Linked DNA regions of Homo sapiens. The protein of the gene in region 1 interacts with the protein of each later gene in a pairwise test. Each region holds a gene or a part of one and is shown in the gene's direction. Other genes may lie near its edges. The genes, in order: FEZ1, DIS3L2, TBC1D25, PTH, BORA, COL9A2 and ZNF251.

The links.
Region 2: the proteins of FEZ1 (region 1) and DIS3L2 interact in a two-hybrid assay, tested with the Homo sapiens proteins (one large-scale study listed by BioGRID and IntAct).
Region 3: the proteins of FEZ1 (region 1) and TBC1D25 interact in a two-hybrid assay, tested with the Homo sapiens proteins (one study listed by BioGRID).
Region 4: the proteins of FEZ1 (region 1) and PTH interact in a two-hybrid assay, tested with the Homo sapiens proteins (one large-scale study listed by BioGRID and IntAct).
Region 5: the proteins of FEZ1 (region 1) and BORA interact in a two-hybrid assay, tested with the Homo sapiens proteins (one large-scale study listed by BioGRID and IntAct).
Region 6: the proteins of FEZ1 (region 1) and COL9A2 interact in a two-hybrid assay, tested with the Homo sapiens proteins (one large-scale study listed by BioGRID and IntAct).
Region 7: the proteins of FEZ1 (region 1) and ZNF251 interact in a two-hybrid assay, tested with the Homo sapiens proteins (one study listed by BioGRID).

The regions. Positions count from the first base shown.
Region 1 is NC_000011.10:125,461,766-125,465,265, reverse strand, and holds part of FEZ1 (fasciculation and elongation protein zeta-1), read left to right. Parts: intron 1-1,695; coding exon 1,696-1,782; intron 1,783-3,500. UniProt on the Homo sapiens protein: May be involved in axonal outgrowth as component of the network of molecules that regulate cellular morphology and axon guidance machinery.
Region 2 is NC_000002.12:231,964,713-231,968,212, forward strand, and holds part of DIS3L2 (DIS3-like exonuclease 2), read left to right. Parts: intron 1-3,500.
Region 3 is NC_000023.11:48,542,714-48,546,213, forward strand, and holds part of TBC1D25 (TBC1 domain family member 25), read left to right. Parts: intron 1-2,155; coding exon 2,156-2,310; intron 2,311-3,500. UniProt on the Homo sapiens protein: Acts as a GTPase-activating protein specific for RAB33B. Involved in the regulation of autophagosome maturation, the process in which autophagosomes fuse with endosomes and lysosomes.
Region 4 is NC_000011.10:13,493,198-13,497,348, reverse strand, and holds the start of PTH (parathyroid hormone isoform 1 preproprotein), read left to right. Parts: upstream 1-1,351; 5' UTR 1,352-1,438; intron 1,439-4,151. UniProt on the Homo sapiens protein: Parathyroid hormone elevates calcium level by dissolving the salts in bone and preventing their renal excretion. Acts by binding to its receptor, PTH1R, activating G protein-coupled receptor signaling.
Region 5 is NC_000013.11:72,751,923-72,754,309, forward strand, and holds part of BORA (protein aurora borealis), read left to right. Parts: intron 1-246; exon of another isoform or gene 247-1,767; coding exon 1,768-1,899; exon of another isoform or gene 1,900-2,387. UniProt on the Homo sapiens protein: Required for the activation of AURKA at the onset of mitosis.
Region 6 is NC_000001.11:40,310,787-40,314,286, reverse strand, and holds part of COL9A2 (collagen alpha-2(IX) chain precursor), read left to right. Parts: intron 1-19; coding exon 20-82; intron 83-1,502; coding exon 1,503-1,556; intron 1,557-1,677; coding exon 1,678-1,713; intron 1,714-1,807; coding exon 1,808-1,831; intron 1,832-2,174; coding exon 2,175-2,228; intron 2,229-2,571; coding exon 2,572-2,625; intron 2,626-2,739; coding exon 2,740-2,787; coding exon of another isoform or gene 2,788-2,799; intron 2,800-3,000; coding exon 3,001-3,057; intron 3,058-3,140; coding exon 3,141-3,194; intron 3,195-3,500. UniProt on the Homo sapiens protein: Structural component of hyaline cartilage and vitreous of the eye.
Region 7 is NC_000008.11:144,745,532-144,749,031, reverse strand, and holds part of ZNF251 (zinc finger protein 251), read left to right. Parts: intron 1-3,500. UniProt on the Homo sapiens protein: May be involved in transcriptional regulation.

The DNA.
Region 1 (3,500 bases):
GAAAAGGTAAACATGCCATTTTTATATAGACTTAGTGCCCACCACCCCCTACCCCCTGCCAAATCCTGGTTATAGACTAACAGTTGCTGTTAGATGCTTATGAAAAATAACCCTGTTTCCCAGGATGAGCCTAACTTGGGCTCACACTAACTTGGGCTGGGTTCATATTGATACATTTCTTCCTTTTTCTCCCCTAATTTTTGTCTGGAGGAAAAAATGTATCTTCGTTCTCTTAATTTTGGGCTAACTTCTACTGCAGGATTTTCTGGCCTGAAGAAAGTTCTTCCATATGAGTGTAGTTGTGAACAAAGCGTAGCTCCAGGAGTTTTGTTCTGCATAGTGGGGAGCGGTGGAAACCACGAGGCTATCGCAGGTGGTGGACTTGGCAGAGAGAGGAGCATATGGGTTTGACAGCGGAAATAGATGTCACCATCTGGTACCCGGGCCCTTCAGATGATTCCATTACCTCCCTGTCCTACCCCATATCTAGGTTGAGTGCGGATGGCATTTGAGATATATTTGCTTAATTTTTTTTTTCTTTTTTAATGACATAGTCCTGGTTTTAAGCAAATGGAGATAAAAGGTGATGTGCTCTGTTAGGGATGTCTGCCAAGGCAAAGCTCACAGAAGACGGGAGAAGTTTCTGAGGATAGACTACCTCTGACATTATTGCTTGGATTGGAGCTGGGCTGTTTCCTGTTAGAAAAGGCAGAATACAAGCCCCAGGGAAGGGGCCAATCGGTGTGCCAGCTACTGGAGCGCAAGGAGGATTCATTCCTGGATGAGAGGTGACTCAGCAGAGAGATTTCCTAGAGACACCTCCTGCCTCCTCCTTGTATGACGTTCAAATCAGACTTCTAGACATACAGCTTGTTAGGTGTTTAGTGATTAACTTTTCTGTGGGACTTGAATGTAAATGCCAGACTATGGCAGTTTGGGATATGGTCAGTTAAGCCAGATATGCTTTGAATAGCTTGTTAGATTTAAACATCTAGAATTTTGATGGCTGTGAACTTTGAGGATCTTACTTGGGATTATGGAATTATAGAGACACAGGGCAAATGAGATAAATGGGGTTCTCTTTTGTAGTTTTGTTGTTGTTTAGTTCATGTGGTCAGGTTATTCAGTGGCATGTCCCATGCAGATTTCTTACATCTGCCATCAGCTATGACATCATGCCTGGATTCCAGTAACAGGATGGCATTTCATCAAATTCTGAAAGTCATCATTATTTGGACTAGAACAACCTATTCCTTAAAATGCCTAGTAAGACGAAATCTGGAAACAACCCCCCAGGTTGGAACTCCTTAACAAAATCAGGGCACCTTTGCTGCAGTTGGCTGCAGTGTCACTTACCTGGAGAAGGCGCCTTGTTCACCCCAGGATGACCTGTCTGTGGGTTAAAAAACGGTGCTGTCCCCTTTGAGTCAGAATGGTGCTGGCCATTCCCCTGTCGTCTTTTCCTGCCAAGTTGGATTCAGTGCTGCATGCTGGATTTCTGGCATGCTGGAGTTAGTGATGGGGCAAAGATATGTTTGGAATTGGATGAAACTCTGGACACCTCTTCAGCTCCACTGTTTAGACAGCAGCTGGCTGGAGTGGCCTCCCAGTCAGTATCATCCATTCTCGAGACTAGAGGCAATCCCACTTCTGCTGATGGTCACCCAGAATTCCATCTCCCCACCTCCTCTCCAGATCCATGAGAAAGAAGAGGAAGAGTTCAATGAGAAGAGTGAAAATGATTCCGGTATCAACGAGGAGCCTCTGCTCACAGCAGATCAGGTATAAGTATCTCTCCAGGTTATCGGGACCTTTTGTTCTTTTGATGGAGAAAAAGTCCAAGAGAACACACTTGCCACATCCATTTAAGGCAGAAGAAAGATATGTGGTCATGTGGTGCCTGTGCTCATGACTCAGAGTATTTTTTGTTTCTTTTTTTTCTTTATATATATATACTTTTGAGACAGAGTCTTGCTCTGTTGCCCAGGCTGGAGTGCAGTGGCGTGATCTTGGCTCATTGCAACCTCTGCCTCCCGGATTCAAGTGACTTTCCTGCCTCAGCCTCCCGAGTAGCTGGGACTACAGGCATGCACCACCATGCCTGGCTAATTCTTATAAAAAATTTTTTGGTAGAGATGTGATTTCACCATGTTGGCCAGGCTGGTCTCAAACTCCTAACCTCAAGTGATCTGCCCACCTCAACCTCCCAAAGTGCTGGGATTATAGGCATGAGCCACTGTGCCTGACCTTTTTTTTTTTTCATTTTGAGACAGGGTCTCACTTTGTCACCCAGGCCAGAGTGCAGTGGCAAAATCAGGGTTCACTATAGCCTCAACCTCCTTGGCTCAAGCGATCCTCCCGCCTCAGGCCCCTAAGTAGCTGGGACTACAGGCATGCATCACTATGCCCAGCTAATTTTCTGTACTTTTAGTGGAGATGAGGTTTCACCATGCTGCCCAGGCTGGTCTCAAACTCCTGGACTCAAGCAGTCCACCCGCCTTGGCCTCCCAAAGTGCTGGGATTACAGGCATGAGCCACGGTGACTGTCCAACTCAGAGTATTTTTGATAAGGGATTTCATCTCTCTTTCTGCCTCAGGTTGCCCACCTGCAGTGAACATGAATGTCATTCTTGACACTTGGGATAGTTGGGGTCAGTCTCTGATAGGAGCCAGAGACAGGCATAGTGTTTAGTAGCTACAATCCTGCTAAGCCTTCTTATTGAAATTCGTTGTACTCGGAGTCAAGACACTCAAACAAGGGTCCCAAATACCTGTTTTCCCAAAAAGAGAAGTGACAGATGAGGCTTTTGTGTGATGGATATTTTCTTACATTTCATAGAACACTCAAAATTTTGGGCCTTCCGAAAGGAGTCTTAGAGCCACTTCGACTTTGTGAAAAAAGATAGAGTGCTTCGCATTCAATTGAGATCATCATAGCTTTAATAATTTATTACTTAGAGAGGATAATGTTCAGTTTCTGGATTCCTTATTTAATGTTTTAGTCAACAAATATTTATGGGTGCTTATTTTGAGCTAAACACTACATAAGTTTCCACAAAGTCTTTCTGCAAAGCTCCACTGGCAGCCTTCGGTGCCAGAAAGTGCTTTTTTAGCAGCAATGGTGCTTTTTCATATCTGTGATAGAAAGGTGGGAATTGAAACACGTGAGGATTAGGAGACTGAAGAGAACCAGATTTTTAAAAATAGGGGCTAATAGCTATTCTTGTGACTTGTAGGAGGATCTACAATTCAATGATATGAACTCAATTATAACTCCTCTTAGAGAAAAGGACATTCAGCCATAAGACCCTGACAGGGACTTGTGTCATTTGGTTGCATTCTGTAAAATGGCTTTCAGTAGTCAAAGACTGGGTATTTCCTAAGTTTGTGAGTAGAGGTGAAAAGGTTTGGGAATAAGAATGGAAATTATTCTAAAGGAGGAGACCCTGAAACCCCTTACCTTTGGTCCAGCCCACTGTGAAGAAACCACCTCAAAGAGT
Region 2 (3,500 bases), on another chromosome or scaffold:
TTTATTAAGCATCTACAGCATTATACACTTTAAAGGATATAAAAGAAAAGTGCACACATGAAATTATTAGGAAAGCAATGAAATGGACATTTGTTTAAATGCAAAATATGTGGTACGGATATTAAGTGCTGTAGTAGGTCAGAGGGTGGAGAAATCATTTCTGGATTAAATGGGACTTGATTTGTCTCTAAAGTACAGATATAATTTGTATTTGTATTGGAGAGGACAGGAAGTCCTAATTCCTTTCCTTATATTCTTAAGAGTTTGGGAAATAGTTCCATGTGGCATTTCGAAGTTCTTATTTAATGCTTTCAGGTCACTTGATTTGTGACCTATTTCTTTCAAATAGTCTTAGTACAAATCTATATGACATTTTTCCTGTTTGACATCTAAAATAGTGAAGTTACTAGCTGAGGGCTTTGCCACTTAGAGTTTCTTTGCTTCTGCATTTGGTGTTAGGTTTATATGAAACACCACAGTTTAAGTAGTTACTGTTTCATTCATGCTCAAGAGTCTTGTGAAATGTTGCTCTTTTTTATTTGACTGGTATTTCTGAAGTGCTTCCTATGTAGCAGCGGTAGTATCAGGAATTACCAAAAACAACTGTTACTTAGCAACCAGTAGGTATGCTTTACATAAGGAGAGTGTGTGTGTTTAGCCTATCAGCCTTTGATGCTCAGCATTTGCCTTGAGACATTGAAGGCCAGAGCAATTTATGTAGACATCTGAATTGACTTTTTTTTTTTTTTTGAGTTTAATGTTTAATAAGGGGACTCAGTTGCTTTGGGCATCCACCAAAGATACATTTGTGAAGATGATCAAACTTTTAAGTCCTCTTAAAAGATGTTTTGTTGCTTTCTTATAGACTTAGTGTTCATTTATTCACTTAATCATCAAATATAATATTTGAGTGCTTACTTGGTACCAGGCACTATGCTTGGCCTTGGAGATGGGGGAGAGTGAATGCACATATGATCTCTGTCCTCAGCAGATGATACTCAAATAATCACACAAATGCAAAACTATGGCTGTGACAAGTGTTTTAGAGAAATCACTGAAATGACATTTTAACTGATGTCTACAAGATGCACAGGAAGAGAACAGTGCTCTAATCAAAGCAGACCCTCTGATGCCACGTCCATGTTGCCCTGGCTGGAGTGCAGTGGTGAGATCACGGCTTACTGTGGCCTCGACCTTCTGGGCTCAGGCGATCCTCCTGCTTCAACCTCCCGAAGTTCTGGGATTATAGATGTAAGCCACCATGCCCAGCCTGTCCTTTTATTTTATCCTTCAAAAAGTTTTTGTTTTACAGAAGGAGTTTCATGAAATGCTATTGAGCATGAGTAAAAGTAAAACTGGGCCTGGAATGAGTGGATAGATCCCTCTGAGGTCTGGCCATCGATACCATTTTTGCTGATGTCAGGGAGTGGAGACTTGACCAGAATTCTTCTTCTTCTTCTTTTTTTTTTTTTTTGAGACAGAGACTTACTCTGTTGCCCAGGCTGGAGTGCAGTGGCACGATCTCAGCTTACTGCAACCTCCGCCTTGTGGGCTGAAGTGATTCTCCAGCCTCAGCCTCGTGAGTAGCTGGGACTACAAGCTCACGCCACCACGCCTGGCTAATTTTTTGTATTTTAAGTAGAGACGGGGTTTCACCATGTTGGCCAGGCTGGTCTCAAACTCCTGACCTCAAGCAATCCACCCGCCTTGCCCTCCCAAAGTGCTGGGATTACAGACGTGAGCCACTGAGCCACTGTGCCTGGCCTTTTTGAGACAGAATCTCACTCTGCTGCCCAGGCTGGAGTGCAGTAGTGTGATCATAGCTCACTGTAACCTTGAACTCCCAGGCTCGAGTGATCTTCCCACCTGAGCCTCTTGAGTAGCTGGGTCTACAGGCATGAGCCACCATGCCCAGCTAGTTAAAAAACATTTTTTTTTTTTTTTTTTTTTTTTTTTTTTTTTTGTGGAGACAGGGTCTTGCTATGTTGCTCAGGCTTGTCTGAAACTCTTGGCCTCAAGTGATCCTCCTGCCTCAGCCTCTCAAATATTGGAGTTACAGGCATGAATCACTGTGCCCATCCCAGAAATCTTGTTGTCTTTATTAAACTGAGAGTGGTGGTAGAATGGCAGAAGATGCTCCTTTTTGTCATGTAACATGAAGTAGAAGGATTTGAAGGGTTTTTCGTATAGAAGGTATTTTATTTGGAACCATAGCAAGAACTTGATGCCTTAGAGTAGTTATTACGTGACCAGTTATGTTGAGGCAAGACTTGATGAAGTTTAGTCAACTGTTAGTCCACCTACTTTTGATTTCTTTCTTGCCCTAATAACAGGCTGCCTCTGGGATGTACTAATGATGACAGATGAGACACTGGTCACACTGGTAGGAAGGGACTTCATGTGGTGCAAAGTACCTTGAAATTATCTCTGATGAAATCATGAGGGGAGAAGGGCTGATGAAGTACCCTGCCCTCAGTAAAGTATTGGTGGAGTGTCTGGTAGACACGGAGAGGTTGTGTGACCCAAACCGGATGAGGCAGGAAGTTATATAATGCTAATTGAAGAATTCTGCATTATAAGTTCCTTTTTGGTCCTCCTCTAATGAAATTGGATTGTTTCTATTTCCCATTAGGCTTTGGTGAGGAGAAGTTTGTGGTGATTATCTAGATGCTGAGGGATTCAGAGAGAAGCCCCAAACATTTCTGTTTAACTTCATTTTTTTAGGGACCAGCTTTCCACATGGGAAATAGTTGCCTTTTTCTCTGATGTCTGCCACTGTTAGCTTTAATCACTTTTAAAAGGTTGAATGCAAAACTCTAGCAACAGTTATACCAAGAAGGAGCTATTATTATTTTTGTTTAATCCTTTTACTTATGGCACAGTATTAAACAAGGTCAGAAATTTACATGTTTCTTTTTAATTTTAGTTAAGTTTTGTAAATGAAAAAAAGAATTGTTCTGAGATTTTTTTGTTGAAATAATGCATTTATTTTCTTTATGTTTCACTGAATTTTTGCCAGTTCAAATCAGTCTTTTATAATAGTTTGCAAGTAAGGATGCCTTATAAGTTTTATGACTGAAATATGTCTTATTAACAAAAAACAATTTTTAATAAATGAATTAGGGCCCAATTTGTGTTGTGTAGGATTATTATTGGTTAAGACCATATTTTTTTGATTTATTTAAAAAATTTATTTGATTGATTTAAGACTGATTTATTGAGGTATAGTTGACAGGTTATAAACTCTAAAGTGTACAGTTTGTTAAGTTTTGACATATGTGTGTACTTGTAAGACTATCATCACAAACAGGACATTGATCATATCTATTATGCCCAAAGCTGTTTTCATACCCCTGGCTCCCTGATCCCTATCCCAGATAACTGATTTTTTTTTTTTTTTTTTGAGACAGAGTCTTGCTCTGTCACCCAGGCTGGAGTGCAGTGGCATGATCTTGGCTCACTGCAAGCTTCGCCTCCCAGGTTCATACCATTCTCCTGCC
Region 3 (3,500 bases), on another chromosome or scaffold:
CGGCCTCCCAAAGTGTTAGGATTACAGGCACGTGAGCCTCCGCACCCGGCCAATTTTTTGTATCTTTAGTAGAGACAGGGTTTCGCCATGTTGCCCAGGGCAGTCTCAAACTCCTGAGCTCAAGCAATCCGCCCGCCTCAGCCTCTCAAAGTGCTGGGATTACAGGTGAGCCACTGCGCCCAGCCAAATGCATTGTCAACTTACAGTATTTCCAACTTACGATGAGTTTATTGGTACATAACCCTGTCATAAGTCAAGAAGCATCTGTATTGTCATAATTGTTCTATTATTGTTAATCTCTTACTGTGCCTAATTTATCAATTAAACCTTATCATAGGTATGTATGTATATGAAAAAAAACATAGTATATATAGGGCTTGGTACTATCTGCAGTTTCAGGCATCCACTCGGGGGGGTCTTGGAATGTATCCCCTGTAGATAAAGAGGGACTACTGTATTTGGAAACATCTAGTCATAGGATAAATTCCTAGCAGTGGTATTGCCAGGTAAAAGGGTATTTGCTTTAAAAAAAATTTTTTTTTTGAGACAGTCTCATTCTGTCGTCCAGGCTGGAGTGCAGTGGTGTGATCTCGTCTCATTGCAACCTCCACCTCCTGAGTTCAAGCAATTCTCCTGCCTCGGCCTCCTGAGTAGCTGGTACTACAGGCGTGCGCCACCATGCCCGGCTAATTTTTGTATTTTTAGTAGAGATGGGGTTTCACCGTGTTGGCCAGGATCGTCTCGATCTCCTGACCTCGTGATCCACCCGCCTCAGCCTCCCAAAGTGCTGGGATTACAGGCATGAGCCACCGCACCTGGCCTGCTTTTTGAACTATTAATGGGTGTTTCCAAAATGCTCTCCAGACAGGTTTTATCAATTTATGATCTCAGCCGGGCGCTGTGGCTCATGCCTGTAATCCCAGCACTTTGGGAGGCTGAGGCAGGTGGATCACGAGGTCAGGAGATCAAGACCATCCTGGCTAACACGGTGAAACTCCGTCTCTACTAAAAATACAAAAAATTCTCCAGGCGTGGTGGTGGGCGCCTGTAGTCCCAGCTACTTGGGAGGCTGAGGCAGGAGAATGGCATGGGCCCGGGAGGCGGAGCTTGCAGCGAGCCGAGATCGCACCATTGCACTCCAGACTGGGCGACAGAGTGAGACTCCGTCTCAAAAAAAAAAAAAAACGAATTTATGATCTCATCAGCAGCACATAAATGCCTGTTTCCCTCACACCCTCGCAAACATTGGTTACTGTAAAACTGCAAAATTTGCCAATCTGATAGCTGAAAAGTGGTGTCTCTTGGGGGCAGATGTGATAGTCATTTTGTTGTGATTTTGGAGGAATACATACACATGGTAAGAAATTCAAACAGTACACAATTGTTGGGTATTTAGGATGTTTCCATGGTTATGATGAGCATCACGCAACAAACTTCTTTACATAGTTGCACAAGTATAGCTGAAAAATTCTTAGTTGTTATTAGACTTTCTTACATAAACATTTTTGTTGTGAAAAATAACAAACACAGATTGCTTTTTTTTTATGTAGTAAGAAGGCTGCTTTCTTCCCACTTCTGTCCCACATCTACCCCAGAGGGGACCAACTTTTTTTTTTTTTTTTGAGATGGAGTCTTGCTCTGTCACCCAGGTTGGAGTGCAATGCCACAATCTTGGCTCACTGCAACCTCCACCTCCCAGGTTCAAGCGATTCTCCTGCCTCAGCCTCCTGAGTAGCTGGGATTACAGGCACCTGCCACCACACCCAGCTAATTTTTTTTGTATTTTTAGTACAGAAGGGGTTTCACCATGTTGACCAGGCTAGTCTCAAACTCCTGACCTCAGGTGATCCACCCACCTCGGCCTCCCAAAGTGCGGAGATTATAGGCGTGAGCCACTGCACCCGGCCAACATTTTACCAGTTTCCAATGTGACCTCCAGATACAAGCAGGTGTGTACCTGCTTGTATGTGTTTGTGTAACAAAGTGGGTATAAATGACCTGATCTCAGGCTGCCCATAATCCTTGGCACAGTACCTTGCACATAGTAGGAAGTTGTTTTCAACGCCTTCTATATTACCCTCCTTGTTTTGGAAACTGTCCCTGAGGCCTCCAGGGCACCAGGGGCCCTGAGAGCTCCCTCGTATCCCCTGTCCAGGAAGAAGAACTTTGGCATCAGCTACCTGGGCCGGGACCGGCTAGGACAGGAAGTTTACCTCTCACTTCTATCTGACTGGGACCTCAGCACAGCCTTTGCCACTGCCTCCAAACCTTACCTGCAATTGCGTGTAGATATTCGGCCCTCGGAGGACAGTGAGTACTCAGTGCCCCCAGGAGCACTGCTCTGGAACCCCTTTACCCCATAGGGTGATGCTACCCCTCACAGTACACTCCCTCATGGTGGGATGGGTAGCAAGGTATCCTAGCTATAGATCCTGGCTCAGCCACTAGGCCACAATTTCTTCACTTGTAAAGAGATAATTGTATCTTAGAACCATTGTGAGGCCTTGTATCTTAGAACCATTGTGAGGGGAAATTCATATAAAATGCCTGGAACAGTGCATGACTGCATAATGAAGGCTCAGAAAGTGTTATCTCTAATAATGATAATTATATTGTATTATACTATTATAACATATAACCGAGTAATGTATGTAATAATTAGATATAATGCAGATTTATAATATAGTATAACGGTATAGCTTTAGCATTATGTATTTCAGTTATAATACCTAAATATAACAATGCGTATTATAATAATGCTAGTTGTGTTTATTCATTCAGTCATTCTGCACCCATATTCATTTGTTTGTATTCTTGCTCACTCATTCATTTGTTCCCTTGACCTCTCAGCCACTTTTTCTCTTCTCATCTTTGTTCTTCCACTCTTGCCTATTCTGGTCCCTGCGAGCACACAGATAAATTAGGACGTGGTCTCAAAATTTGATTACAGACCATACATTAGATAATTGTATCAGTATTAAATTTCCTGGGTGTGTGTCTTAGTCGTTTTGTGCTACTATAACAGAATACCACAGACTGAGGAATTTGTAAAGAAGAGAAATTTATTTCTCACAGTTTTGGAGACTGGGAAGTCCAAGATCAAGGTGCTGGCAGGTTGTGTGTCTAGTGAGGGCTTTCTTGCTGCATCCTCACATGACAGAAGAGCAGAAGAGAGTGAACCCACACCCTCAACCTCTTTATAAGAGCCCAAATCCGCTGGGCACGGTGGCTCATGCCTGTAGTCCCAGCACTTTGGGAGGCTGAGGCAGGCGGATCACCTGAAGTCAGGAGTTCGAGACCATCCTGGCCAACATGGTGAAACCCTGTCTCTACTAAAAAAAATACAAAAATTAGCCGGGTGTAGTGGCACATGCCTATAATCCCAGCTACTCGGGAGGCTGAGGCATGAGAATCGCTTGAACCCGAAAAGCAGAGGTTGCAGTGAGCCAAGATCTTGCCACTGCACTCCAGCCTGGGTGACAGAGCGAGACTTCATCTCA
Region 4 (4,151 bases), about 110 Mb from region 1:
CCTGGAGCAACACTCTAAGTGAGGTTAACCCAGAGTGGAGAATCTCCTAGGACAGGACTAGTATATATCTCTCATTATAAACTCCATACGGTTACTATTCAAATTTGTACTGGCTCTTACCTAAGGTAGAGTCAAACCTTGACAATGGCTAGTAGGAAAAAGGATGACATGAAGCCAGGATGGGACCAGAGCTGAGAGAACTGATCCCACTCTGGCACCGGATCTTTGGTGGGAAGGCAAAGCTGTCTAAAGGAGTCCTAGATATATCAAAGACATTCAGGGTGTTTTGACAGGTGGACCAGGAAAATATTGCTGGAGGAATATTTGAAGTCAGACATGTGGCAGCATCATGCCTCCAATAGGTTTTGGAGCAGGCTCTCATCATCCCTTAGGGAACATGAGAATAAAGACCTAACCCCTAGGGGAAAATGTTGCAAAGAGCTTTTGCTGTGTTTTCAGATGACTTTGCAAATTAAAGTCAAGAAGACTGGAGTTCAAAGAAGGGCTGTATTTCTAGGCAGAAACTGAGGTAGTAAGAATCTGGTGTCATAAAGACCTTTGTTGAATTCCATCTTTTCTGCTTTCCAAGCCTAAGTTTCCTCATGTAAAAATGGGGATAAGCACTTAACTTTAGTACTTTAAGTACTAACTTTAAAGGACTGCTGTGAAGATCTAGTGGGATAATATATGTAGTTAGGCATGCAGTTAGTGCTTATCAAATGTTATTATTATAGATTAAGATGCACAAATAAAATATAAGTTAAATAAATTTTAAAATAATTTCACTTTTGAAGCTTTTAAAGTAATTATGTACTAAGAGCATTTTCTCAAATTATTCTTAACACTTCCTTTAAGAAAAGGGCTATATCTGTTTTTTGAAAGATGACCAGAAGTGACATGGATTGGTTGAAAATGGCTTGTAAAGTAAGCCTAACATTTATGATTTATTACCATAAAAACTGTACCAACAGTACGGTTATAACAAATACACTTATTTTTGGGTTTTATTTTCAAGTAAGATAATGACTTTATCATAAACCTTTGAAATCAGTCTTTTTACAGTATAAATTCAGATTCATTAATCCACATAGAATTTTTCTCGATGGTATAATTCTGTATTTGTTAAAAGTCTTTGCATAAGCCCCTTGTCAAGCCAAATGCTGTTTTCCTTTTAGTATCCAATTATCTGAAACTTAAGAAGAGTGTGCACCGCCCAATGGGTGTGTGTATGTGCTGCTTTGAACCTATAGTTGAGATCCAGAGAATTGGGAGTGACATCATCTGTAACAATAAAAGAGCCTCTCTTGGTAAGCAGAAGACCTATATATAAAAGTCACCATTTAAGGGGTCTGCAGTCCAATTCATCAGTTGTCTTTAGTTTACTCAGCATCAGCTACTAACATACCTGAACGAAGATCTTGTTCTAAGACATTGTATGGTAAGTAAACTTAAAAATTCACTTCTGAATCTCATGAGATTTTGATAATCAAGTTATTATTTAATGTGTACCATTTCTACAAATACCATGTTGTTTCTTCAAGGTAAAATGCTAAGAAGTTTGAGTTATGTTTAATATAAAATGCCACATACAAAATAAATTAATGCTACTCAAATCACAAAATCCTTTTTGATTAAAGTCTTCTGAGATACCTTGCCTTTTAAAACCTCATCTGAAATTACAACAAAAAATCATTAAAATTTGGCATGCTATGCTTTAATATAATAGTATCGGTGTCAAAATTTTGAAATAAAACAGGTTGATGGTGAATGAATAGTTCTGATTTAAATAATCTTTATAAATTTATTAAGTGGAGTTAATATTCTGTTTTTCCTGCAGAGTATTCTTATCTAGATTATTTATTTTATGGCTCATAAAGAGCCCAATCTGTATACTAAAGTTGGATAAGCCCAGTTTGACTAGTAAATATTTATTTCCTTTACATAAATGACAGCTGTATTCTGAAAACAGTATTTCCTATGCTATTTCTAAATGATGCAGTTTCCCTGTAAAATAGGAGTACATAACTACTCTATGTGTATGTTAAAAGGTAGTACACTGAGCATTAAGGAAAAGCACTTCTATAATAACAGCCTTTGCAAGTACTGAAATGCAGATTAAGGCAAGAATATCCTATACTGATGTGAAACGAGGAAAGAGACAAAAGTTATATTAAAAGATAATTGTTAATAAAATAAGTTGAAGAAATAAGCTACAAACAAGCATTCCATTCAGAGATAAAGCTCGAAATCCATATCACAAGTAATTAATCAGATGATTTTTAAATGCTTTGACACATTATTTTTAATGCTAGGAGAAATGTGAATTAATTTAGTGAAAATCTCTAGATTAGCACCTATTAGTTTGGTATTTATGGTTATTACAATGCCTGAAATGAAGGTTACTTAAGAAAAGGATTTGCTACGTAAATAGTGTTAACAATTTACACTATGAAGAAAATTAGGCATTTTCAAGCAAGTTATAAACATTTAGGTATAATCAACATAAAATGCAGTGCGGGGGGATTTCTCAAAAATAGGCTCTTTCATTCCTCTTGTAGCTTAAGATTTCTGCAGTGTGACAGAAGGGAGCATGAGAAGCATGGCTCACCAGCCAGCCTCTATTGTCTATGTAATTAGAAGCTTCAGAACTCACTAATACCACTGTACCTTTCACTGGCGCATTACCCCATAAAACTTGAGATGAGGTGAGATCTGAGTATAAAGATAGGTCAGAAGTATTTTAAAGGGCTTAATTTGCCAAAAAGAAAAGTAAAAAGCTAGAGACCCTTTTTGCAGAACATTTGGTGACCACACATTTGAGGGAAGATGTGGCATTAGATGAAGCAGAAGCAAACCCTGCTCTTAGGGGCTCATCTAGGTGAGTGCACAGCCTGTGACACTACAGGGAGAGGCTCAGTAAACTGAGATCCAGCATTCTGTATGACAGAGGCATTGCTTATCACAGAGGTTCTGAATTTTAAGTAGGAAGTACATAATGAAGAGGGCTTTAAAAATTGCTAAGAAAGCGAGTCACCAGGGCTGGCAGTAGTGTAACAGGGCCATCCTGAGCTGTTAGGAGAGTAGATGCAGGGAGGGCTGGTGACCTCCGTGGGTTTATCTGTTGGAGACTCTTCTCTCCAAATCCCAGGCCTGGCTTCCAGCACCATCCAGCTGTGCCCAAGAAGCCACGCTGGTCTGTTCTCCAAGTCTTTTAAATGGTGCCTAATTTTTCTAAGTGAGCTTAGCAATGAGAAGAAAAAAAAAACATGAATTATTTTTCTGGAAAATCAAGGAGACATGGGTAACAACAGGCACTAATAAATATTTATAGATGAGTGAATGAGGAAATAATTACATAAAAAAGGTCAGTGACAATTGATAAATGACAAGGAAATATTTAATTAGGTAAAAGTAAACCATTGCTCTCTATACTAGGATAGACTTTATCTACTTCGTCTTTTCCTAAGTCAGCATGTTAATTCTGGGGGAGGATCATAAGAAAGGAAATACTTTTTTAAAAAAAATTTAAAAACATGTAACAAAGCAAGGGTAAAATATATGTATATACATAAGTGGTATGACTGTAAAACTGTACTTTCCATTAGTTATTAGCTGAGTTAAGAGAATGATCACGTTGAAGTACTGTGTGGACTAGAAATGTACTCTGTCATCATGCAATGAAATGTTGCTAACATTTTAACATAGCTCATTTATGCAGAATGAATTCTGGCAGTTTACCCCAAGTCACAGTTAGGACGGTAGATGGTGAGATCGCAGATGCGTGATTATCTAGATTCAGTGTTACATTTTTGATGTTTATCACTCAGTGGATTTTTATTAATATGCTGATTAAGTTATTTACTTGGCCAGTCATTGTGCTAAATAGTTGCTCTTTTGTGTTTCATTGCCTTGATGTTTGAGTGTAATCTAGCATTTTAATACAGTGTTTATTTTGCATGATCTTTAACAAATGTTTTAAGCAATTTTAAAAAGGCAGGATGTTATTGACATTATACATTGAAGTCTTAACATTTTAATATTTATAGTGCTTATTAGTTTGCAAAATTGTATAATTAGGAATTATTTCAGAGACAATGTTTTCTTTTTCAGGTGAGTAGTTGCCGCTTAATATCATTGGAGTACATTCTTTA
Region 5 (2,387 bases), on another chromosome or scaffold:
AATGGTAACAAACAAGGGGGACTGAGAATGATGAGGGAAGGGCTAAAGTGCTGGGCCCAGATGTCAAGGAATGTTATCACAGGGCACAACTGTTGCCAATTGAAAGTTTTAAAAGACAATGACATCTGATTTATGTGGTAGAAAAATAAATTTAGTAACAAAGTGCATGTTAAATGACTGACATAGAGACACCATTTAAAGGCACCATGACCCAACTGGAATATAAAGTTTGCAATTAGAACCAAGTTTGAATTAGAGTTCTTTTATTTCCAGGCTGTGGGATCTTAAGGCAAGATTTACATAGCAGTGAATAGAACATGACTTTTTAATTTTTGTCCCCTCATCCTTCTTAGCTATAAAGTGAGATTGATGCCTGCCTTGATGCCTGTGGGGGATAACAAGGTATCTGTTGCCTGGTTGGTACATATTAGGCATTGACATTAGCAGAAGTCTAGATGAGAGACAGTGAAGTCAGCCACCATCTCAACTTGGCTCTCATCAATCCTGCTCTTCCCATAGTGTGGGACAAACTCCCCGCATGCCTTACTTCCTGCTGTACTAATGAGTAACTCTTCCCTCCATATATATCCAGTTACATATTAGTATTGCATTATAAGCCAGCTATTTGGCAGTGATGAATATTAGAAGGAAGAGCTATTGGCAGAATCTCTGGGAGCAATCTGACATTTATATTTTTGATCAAGTAGCTATTGAATGATAGCAGAACAAGGCTTTTCCCCAAAAATGTTACACATCACAAGGCTTTTGTTCTAATTGGAACATGACCTCTAGTAGTAAGCAGATATGTATCCAGCCTTGAAATCTGGGAACATTTTTTCAGGATTATTAAGTGATAAAGAGTGCCGTTTCTAGGCTAGTCTGTACCTTTGTGAGGGAAACAAAATGACAGTCAGCTTTTTCCTTCCCTCTGATCCTAACTTGCAGGGAGGGCTTAAATGCAAAATGATTCCCTTGTGGATTGCTTTCTTTGGTGCTCAGCATTATACAGGTAAATGGAGCGTTGTGCAGTGAACAGAACCTGGACTTAGGTCTCACATCTTCATCACCTCATCACTGGATGACATTGTGAAAGTTAAGCTTTTTAAGCCTTAATTTCCTTCTCTAGTAAAGTATTAGGGTTGTTGAAAGGAGAAAAAAATATTAAATATATAGAGATAGTGCCTGGCCTTTTTAGACACTCAATAAATGTTTCCAAGCTGGAAGTTCGCTAGAATCTTTCTTTTTTGCTCTTTTGCACTGAAACAGTGTATCTTAGGATGCTACAATTTTTATTAACATGAAAAGCTGAACTAACATCTAGAGCCATTATATATGTGGCATTATTGTGAACAACTAGGTGTAAATATAATATAATCCACTTTTTTAAAGGCAGCATGCCTCAAGCCATTTAGAGACAAGCCTGGAAAATGCGTTGGAAGGTGAAGTTAGTTGTAATACTCATTTTTGTCTACTAGGTACGATCACAAAATAACAGGAAAGCATTGTGTCAGTAGGCTGTTCACTGATTCTTAAGGAAGTTACAAGATATATTTCATTGGAAGGAATTGTAAAATGACTACAATAATCAGTACTATGCAGGACTACCTTTTATATTTGTGCATTACTTTTGAATTTTGTTCAACATGATCAATATTACATGTTAGGATCATTCAGATGTAGTGAATGAGAGTTTATAGTGGTTTACTTATTTAAATATTTGACTTTTAAGTTCCTCACAATATATTTTTTTCTTTTTTCTCCTGTCAGATGGATAGTGGCTATAATACGCAGAATTGTGGAAGCAATATTATGGATACAGTTGGGGCAGAAAGTTACTGCAAAGAAAGTGATGCACAAACATGTGAAGTTGAGAGTAAATCTCAAGCATTTAATATGAAGGTACGGAGAAAATATAGTGAAAGCTTAATATTGTTTAGATTAGAAATATAAAATAATTTTGATTATTAGACAATAGTACTATTGAGAAACTATATGAAATTTAAAACACTAAAAGGTAAGCCTGTTTTCTTAACATCCAATAACCTTTAAATATTTTGGTTACTCTGAATACACAAGTATCTTACATACTACAAAGTGTGCAAAGGTAGCGTGTATTTGATGAGGGCATTTACTGAACCTTCCAGGTGGTGGTTATATATTCATACTTGAAGAAACTCATCATAATTTCAGGCACTAGTCAGGACAGTCTTTAATTTTATGTGCCAATTTTTTTTGCATTTTATTTTTTTGTAGAGACAGGGCCTGCTGTGTTGCCCAGGCTGGTCTCAAACTCCTGGTGTCAAGCAGTCTTTCTGCCTCAGCCTCGCAAAGTGCTGCGCGATTACAGGCATGAGCCAACATGCCCAGCCTTGTATGCCGTTTCTTTT
Region 6 (3,500 bases), on another chromosome or scaffold:
TTCCATCTCTGTTTTCAAGGGACCCAAGGGCGAGCCTGGCAAAGCTGGGCCAGATGGGCCAGACGGGAAGCCCGGGATTGATGTGAGTAGCTGAGTGTCGGGTGGGGCAGGGTAGGGCTCTGCCAATTGACCTCCAGGGCCTGGCTCTGGCATCTTCACTGATCTGTTCAGAGATGGGCAGCAGGATGGAGATTCTCCAGCTGTGAGCCCCCCTCACCTTGATATGACTTGTGACCTTCCTGGAACCTCACTCTCACCCAGGGTCATTGATTTGCAGGCAACCGGGGTCCAGAGAGAGGGTCTGCTTTCTGGGAGGTGCAGGTTCCTCCTGCTACCCCTCAGCAGTCAGGACTTAGTCTCACATTTCTGGCCTCCAAGGATCAGGCTGAATATGTTGGGTGGGGCTGTCCTTGTGTGCCCTGTCCTTTCCTCCGCTCTTCCCCTGACCCCTACCCACAGCCCCAGGCATGACTCAGGAGAGAAACATCATTTAGCTGATACCACAGAGCTCCCAGGGGGCCCCCAAGGTCACAGGCTCTTGAACACAGCCAGCCCCAGGGGCATGAGGACAACATCTGATGGGGGTTACACTGGGTCAGTCACTGAAAGATGGGAGAAAGGAGAAACCCCCATGACTTGCCTCTGCCCTGCTGGCTCATGAGGTGTGACCAGGGCTGGGACAGTCACCAGGACCCCTTCAAACTCATCCACACCCTGCAACGATTACAAGGCATATTGCCTTCTATGTTGCATCAGTTCTCACATCCACCCAGAGAGGCACCCAGATGAGAAACTAAGGCTCAGAAAAAGTTGCCAATGGCCTGGCGTGGTGGCTTATGCCTGTAATCCCAGCACTTTGGGAGGCCGAGGTGGGCAGATTACTTGAGGTCAGGAGCTCAAGACCAGCCTGGCCAACATGGCGAAACCCCATCTCTACTAAAAATACAAAAATTACCCAAGCGTGGTGGCGCATGCCCCTGGTCCTAGCTACTTGGGAGGCTGGGGCACAAGAATCATTTGAACCCAGGAAGCGGGGGTTGCAGTGAGCTGAGACTGTGCCACTGCACTCCAGCCTGAGCAACAGAGTGAGACTGTGTCTCAATTGAAAAAAAAAAGAAAGAAAAAGAAAAGAGAAAGGAAAGAAAAGAAAAGAAAATGAAAAAGTTGTCAAGGTAGGACATCAAGCAAATGACCAATCTTGACCCATGGCTAGGTCTTCTAGACTCCTGAACCCGGAGGCATGAAGCCTGGGTCTGGCATAAAGCCAAATCTTTGGGCTTTGGTTTCTCATCTTTCAAAAGAAGGGAATTGTTCTGCCTGCCTCCTAGGGTTACTATGGGAACTGGGGAAAAGGAAAGAAAGGTGTGGAGGTTCCTAGGCCTTCATGAGGTGTGGCAAAAAGGAGCCTCGGCCCACCCAGGAGGGACCCTTGAACCTGCCCTGCTCTGTGGGTCAGGGAGCAGGTTGGCCCTCATTGATCCTACATTTTCATTCTTCCCCAGGGTTTAACTGGAGCCAAGGGGGAGCCTGGCCCCATGGGGATCCCTGGAGTCAAGGTAAGGGGCCTGCTGGGGCCTCAGCGTGGGCAATCTAGGGCCAGCGTTTGGGAGTGGCTGTAGAGAGGAAGTAGGAGCCGGGGAAACCCCAGCCTCTGAGCCTTTCTCGTTGCTTCTGCAGGGCCAGCCCGGGCTTCCTGGTCCTCCTGGCCTTCCGGTGAGTACAACCTGCAAGGGCTTCGAGGGACTCTTGGGGGAGAGGGGACCTGCAGAGGGAGCCATGAAGCCAATTTTCTTTCTTTCTGTTCCAGGGCCCTGGTTTTGCTGGACCTCCTGTAAGTCCTCAGGGATGGGGCAGGATCCCCAGAACTCCCAGGGAAGGAGGGGACAACAGAAAGGCTTCGAGGGAATGGCCACCATGGGAAGGAGCCAGCTTGCTGTGATAGTGTCAGGAATAAGTGGACCTGCCAGAGACCCAGGGCCAGCCCACTCTGGGCCTGTCCACTGGCTCTGCAATTCTCTGGTCCTTAAAGCCTCAGTCTGTCAGTCTCTCTGGGGTTGGCAAAAAAAAAAAAAAAGTAAAAGTGGAGAAACGGGCTTTGGGTGCCTGTCTCTACCTTTGTGCCCAGGGTATCTGACCCTCTGAGGCATCCTGACCATCAACTCTCTGCTCCCCAGGGGCCTCCTGGACCTGTTGGCCTCCCTGGTGAGATTGGAATCCGAGGCCCCAAGGTGAGCCTCAGCCACCCTCTGTTCACTGCCTCCTGCCTTCTATCTCCAAGCTGGCAAGCTGGGTGGTCTTTCTGGAAGTTCCTGGGCCTGCTCCTGGCCACTGGGAAACTCCTCCAGGTCTGGGGCAGAAACCCCTCCTATGAGCCCACCCGGCACTAGGTCTTTTAGGGACGCCGCTGGCCCCATCCCCTGTCAATCAGGCCTTCATCTCCCAAGATGGTGGATCTCACAAAGTGACCGGGAAGACAGGGTGGAGAGGGCAGAGGCAGGACCTGGAGGAGGGCACTAGGGTAAGCTGGTAAGGGCTGGTCAGGGGTATGATTTGGGCTTCTTTTGCTTCCAGGGGGACCCTGGACCAGATGGACCATCGGGGCCCCCAGGACCCCCTGGGAAACCTGTAAGTGTCCCCAGACCCCCGACATGGCAAAGTGCAGGGGAAGGAGAAGGGTCTTTGAGCAAGCCTGCGGCGGGAAAGGGTCAGGCCAAGCTCCATCTTCATGTCTCCTCTCAGGGTCGCCCGGGAACCATCCAGGGTCTGGAAGGCAGTGCGGATTTCCTGGTGAGAGACGAGGTCTGGGGCGGGGCTAACACAGGGGGGCGGGGCCACAGAGATGGGGAGGCGGGGCCACGGAGATGGGGGTGTCTGGAGAGATGGGGAGGGGCTGCAGTGCAGGGGTTCCACCAGGTGAGGCGGAGGAGAGCACGGGGCTTGGAGAGATGGGGGCGCACTGCCCAGCTGATCACAGGACCCTGTGGGATTTTCTGTTTCCAGTGTCCAACCAACTGTCCACCCGGAATGAAAGGTCCCCCAGGGCTGCAGGGAGTGAAGGTGAGAGCTCCTGGCCTGAATCTTGGGAGGGTGGTGCAGGTGACAGGAGGGGACCTCGTATTGAGCTCTCTCCTTCCCTTCAGGGGCATGCGGGCAAACGCGGGATTCTGGGTGATCCTGGCCACCAGGGGAAGCCGGTGAGTGCAAGGGCTGAGGGCTGTGGGTCAGGGATACGTGGAGATGGTCCTACAGGGCTCTGTCCCCTTCTTCGTCCCTTCCCCTTCCCCTGTGGGTTCTGGGGACAGAGCCTTGAGCCGGGGGCTGGAGGCCTGTGCTCCAGGTCGGCATGTCTCTGGTCATGTCTCCTTGCTTGGCTTTTCTCTATCTGTAACACAGGACTGTAGGGTTCGTAGTAGTCCCTCCCGTCTGCTTGTGCTGGGGAAAAGAGGTGGTATCTTTGCTTGTCTGTATATGTGTCTTTCCATCTGCCTGCCTGTCTGACA
Region 7 (3,500 bases), on another chromosome or scaffold:
CACCACATCCAGCTCTTTTTTTATTTTTGTAGAGATCAGGTCTCACTATTTTGCCCAGGTTGGTCTCAAACTCTTGAGCCTCAAGCAGTCCTCCTGCTTTGGCCTCCTAAAGCACTGGTATTACAGGCCACAGTGCCTGGCCCCAACTGTGTTTTCTATAAGGAACCTGCTTCGGCCAGGAGTGATGGCTCCTGTAATTCCAGCACTTTGGGAGGCCGAGGTGGGAGGATCCCTTGAGCCTGGGAGTTTGAGACCAGCCTAAACAACATAGTGAGAAATCATCTCATCAAAAAGTTAAAAAAATTAGCTTGGTGTGGTGTTGTGTACCTATAAGTCTCAGCTACTCAAGAGGCTGATGTGGTAGGATCGCTTGAGCCCAGGAAGTTGAGGTTGTAGTGAGCTGTGATTGCACCACTGCTCTGCAGCCTGGGCAACAGAGCAAGACCCCATTGCAAAGAAAAAAGAAACCTGCTGTCTCATGACAAGATCTTGCCATGAACAAAAAAAAAGAAAAGAAGCCCACTTTAAACATAAAAACACAAAAGGGATGGAGAAAGATAGTAATCCAAAGAAAGCGGAAATATCTTACTACTTTAGACACAAAACATAACAGATCTTGAGGTGTATGGGCCTAACAACAGCATCAAAATATGTGAGGTTGGCCAGGCACAGTGGCTAACACCTGTAATCCCAGCACTGGGAGGCCGAGGCGGGCAGATAACTTGAGGTCAGGAGTTCAAGACTAGCCTGGCCAACATGATGAAACCCCATCTCTACTAAAAACACAAAAATTAGCCAGGCATGGTGGAGTGCACCTGTAATCCCCCCTACTCAAGAGACTAAGACAGGAGAATCACTTGAACCTGGGAGATGGAGGTTGCAGTGAGCCAAGATTGCACCATTGCACTGCAGCCTGGGCGACAGAGTGAGACTCCATCTCAAAAAAAAAAAGTGAGGTTGTCAAGTGTGGTAGTCATGCCTGTAATCCCAGCACTCTGGAAGGCCAGGAAGGGCAGATCGCTTGAGCCCAGGACATTGAAGCTGCGGTGAGCTATGATCACGTCACTGCGCTCCAGGCTGGGCAACTGAGTGAGACACTATCTCTAAAAACCACAAAACCAGCTGGACACGGTGGCTCACGCCTGTAATCCCAGCACTTTGGGAGGCCGAGGCGGGTGGATCACCTGAGGTCAGGAGTTCGAGACCAGCCTGACCAACATGGAGAAACCCCATCTCTACTAAAAATACAAAATTAGCCGGGCGTGGTGGCTCATGCCTGTAATCTCAGCTACTCGGGAGGCTGAGGCAGGAGAATTGCTTGAACCCAGGAGGCAGAGGTTGCAGTCAGCCGAGATTCGCGCCATCGCACTCCAGCCTGGGCAACAGAGCGAGACTCCGTCTCAAAAAACAACAACAACAAAATATGTGATGCGAAAACTGATAGAACTACAAGGGGAAATAGATGAGTTCACTGTCTGCAGTTGGAGATCCAGCACCCTCTATCGTAAATGGACAGATCCAGCAGGATGCAGTTGAGTTTAACAGCACCATCACATCAGTCAGCTGGGAATAATTTACATCTGTAGACTGCTTCATCCAACGATAGCAGAATGCACATTCCTGCCAAGCTCATGTGGAACATTCACTAAGATAGACCACATTCTGGGCCACAAAACACTTTAACATACTTGAAGAATAGAAAACATAGAATGTCTATTCTCAGACCACAATGACATGAAACTAGAAATGAAACCAGAAAGATAGCTAGAAAATCCTAAAGTACTTGGCAAATAACACACTTCCAAATAACACGAGTCAAAGAAGATATCTCAAGATAAATTTTAGAATATTTTGAATTAAGTGAAAATGAAAATAAAACTTACCAAAATTTGTGGAATGCTGTGAATGCAGTGCTTAGAGGGAAATTTATAGCATTGACTGCATGTATTAGAAAATGGGAAAGATCTAAAATCATAATGTAAGCTTTCACTCTAGGAAACTAGAAAAAGAAGAGCAAATTAAATACAAAGTAAGCAGAAGAAAAGAAATAAAAATTCAAGCAGAAATCAATGAAATGGAAAACAGGAAATCAATAGAGAAAATCAACGAAACCAGAAGATGGTTTGAAAAAACAATAAAATCAGTAAACCTTTAGCCAGACTAAGACAAAGAAGAGAGAGGACACAAAATACTAATATCAAATGAAAGAGGGAACATCACTACAGAGATGTCCCACAGACTTTTAAAGGGTAATAAAAAAAAAAAGATGAACAACTCTGTGCCCAAATTTGATAAATGAACCAATTCCTTGAAGTACACAATCTCCCAAACACGGGAAGAAATAGACAATCTGAATAGGGCTATGTCTGTTAAATAAGTCAAATCAACAATTACCTTCCAAAATAGAATCCACTGGGCTCAGATGGGTTCACTTATGACTTCTACCAAACATTTAAGGAAGAAATTATACCAGTTCTCTATAATCTCTTCCAGAAAATAAAAACAGAGGGAATACTTCCTAACTCATATGAGGTCAGTGTTATCCACCCAAATGCCAAAACCAAACAGACATTACAAGAAAAGGAAACTACAGACAGACACCTCTTATGAACATAAATGCAAAAATCCCAACAAAATATTAGCAAATCAAATCCAACAATGTATAAAAAGAATTATATACCATGACCAAGTGGGATTTGTCCCAGGTTTACAAGGCTGGTCCAACATTAGGAAATAAATTAATGTAATGTGATGTACCACATCAACAGGCTGAAGAAAGATCATGTGGTCATATCAGTAGATGCGGAGAAAGCATTTGACAAAATCCAACCTCGATTCATGATTACAAATTCAACAAACTAGGAATAGAGAGGAACTTCCTCAAGTTGATAGAGAGCATCTACAGAAAATCTACATTTTCCTTTATACTGGCAACGAAGAAGTGGAATTTGAAGTTAAAAACACATTATTTACATTAGCACCACTAAAGATAAAATACTGAGGTGTAAGTCTAACAAAATATGTACAAAATCTGTGAGGAAAAATACAAGACTGATAAAAATATATCAAAGAAGAGCTAAATAAATGAAGAGATAGTCTGTTCATGAGGAAAACTCAGTATTATCATGATGTCAGTCCTCTGCTTGATTTACAGATTCAACACAATCTCAATCACAGTCTCAGGGGCTAAGTGTGGTGGTTTATGCCTATAATCCAGCACTTTGGGAGGCTAAGGCAGGAGGATCGCTTAAGCCCAGGAGTTTAAGACCAGCCTAGGCAACATAGTGAGACCCCATATCTACAAAAAAATTTTTTTTGTTAGCTAGGCCTGGTGGCATGTGCCTATATTCCCAGCTATTTGGGAGGCTGAGGTGGGAGGACTGCTTGAGCCTAGGAGTCTGAGGTTTCAGTAAGTTATGATCATGCCACTGTATTCCAGCCTGGCTGACAGAGCAAGACCCTGTCTCTAAAAAACGAAAAAAACTCAGCAGGTTATTCTG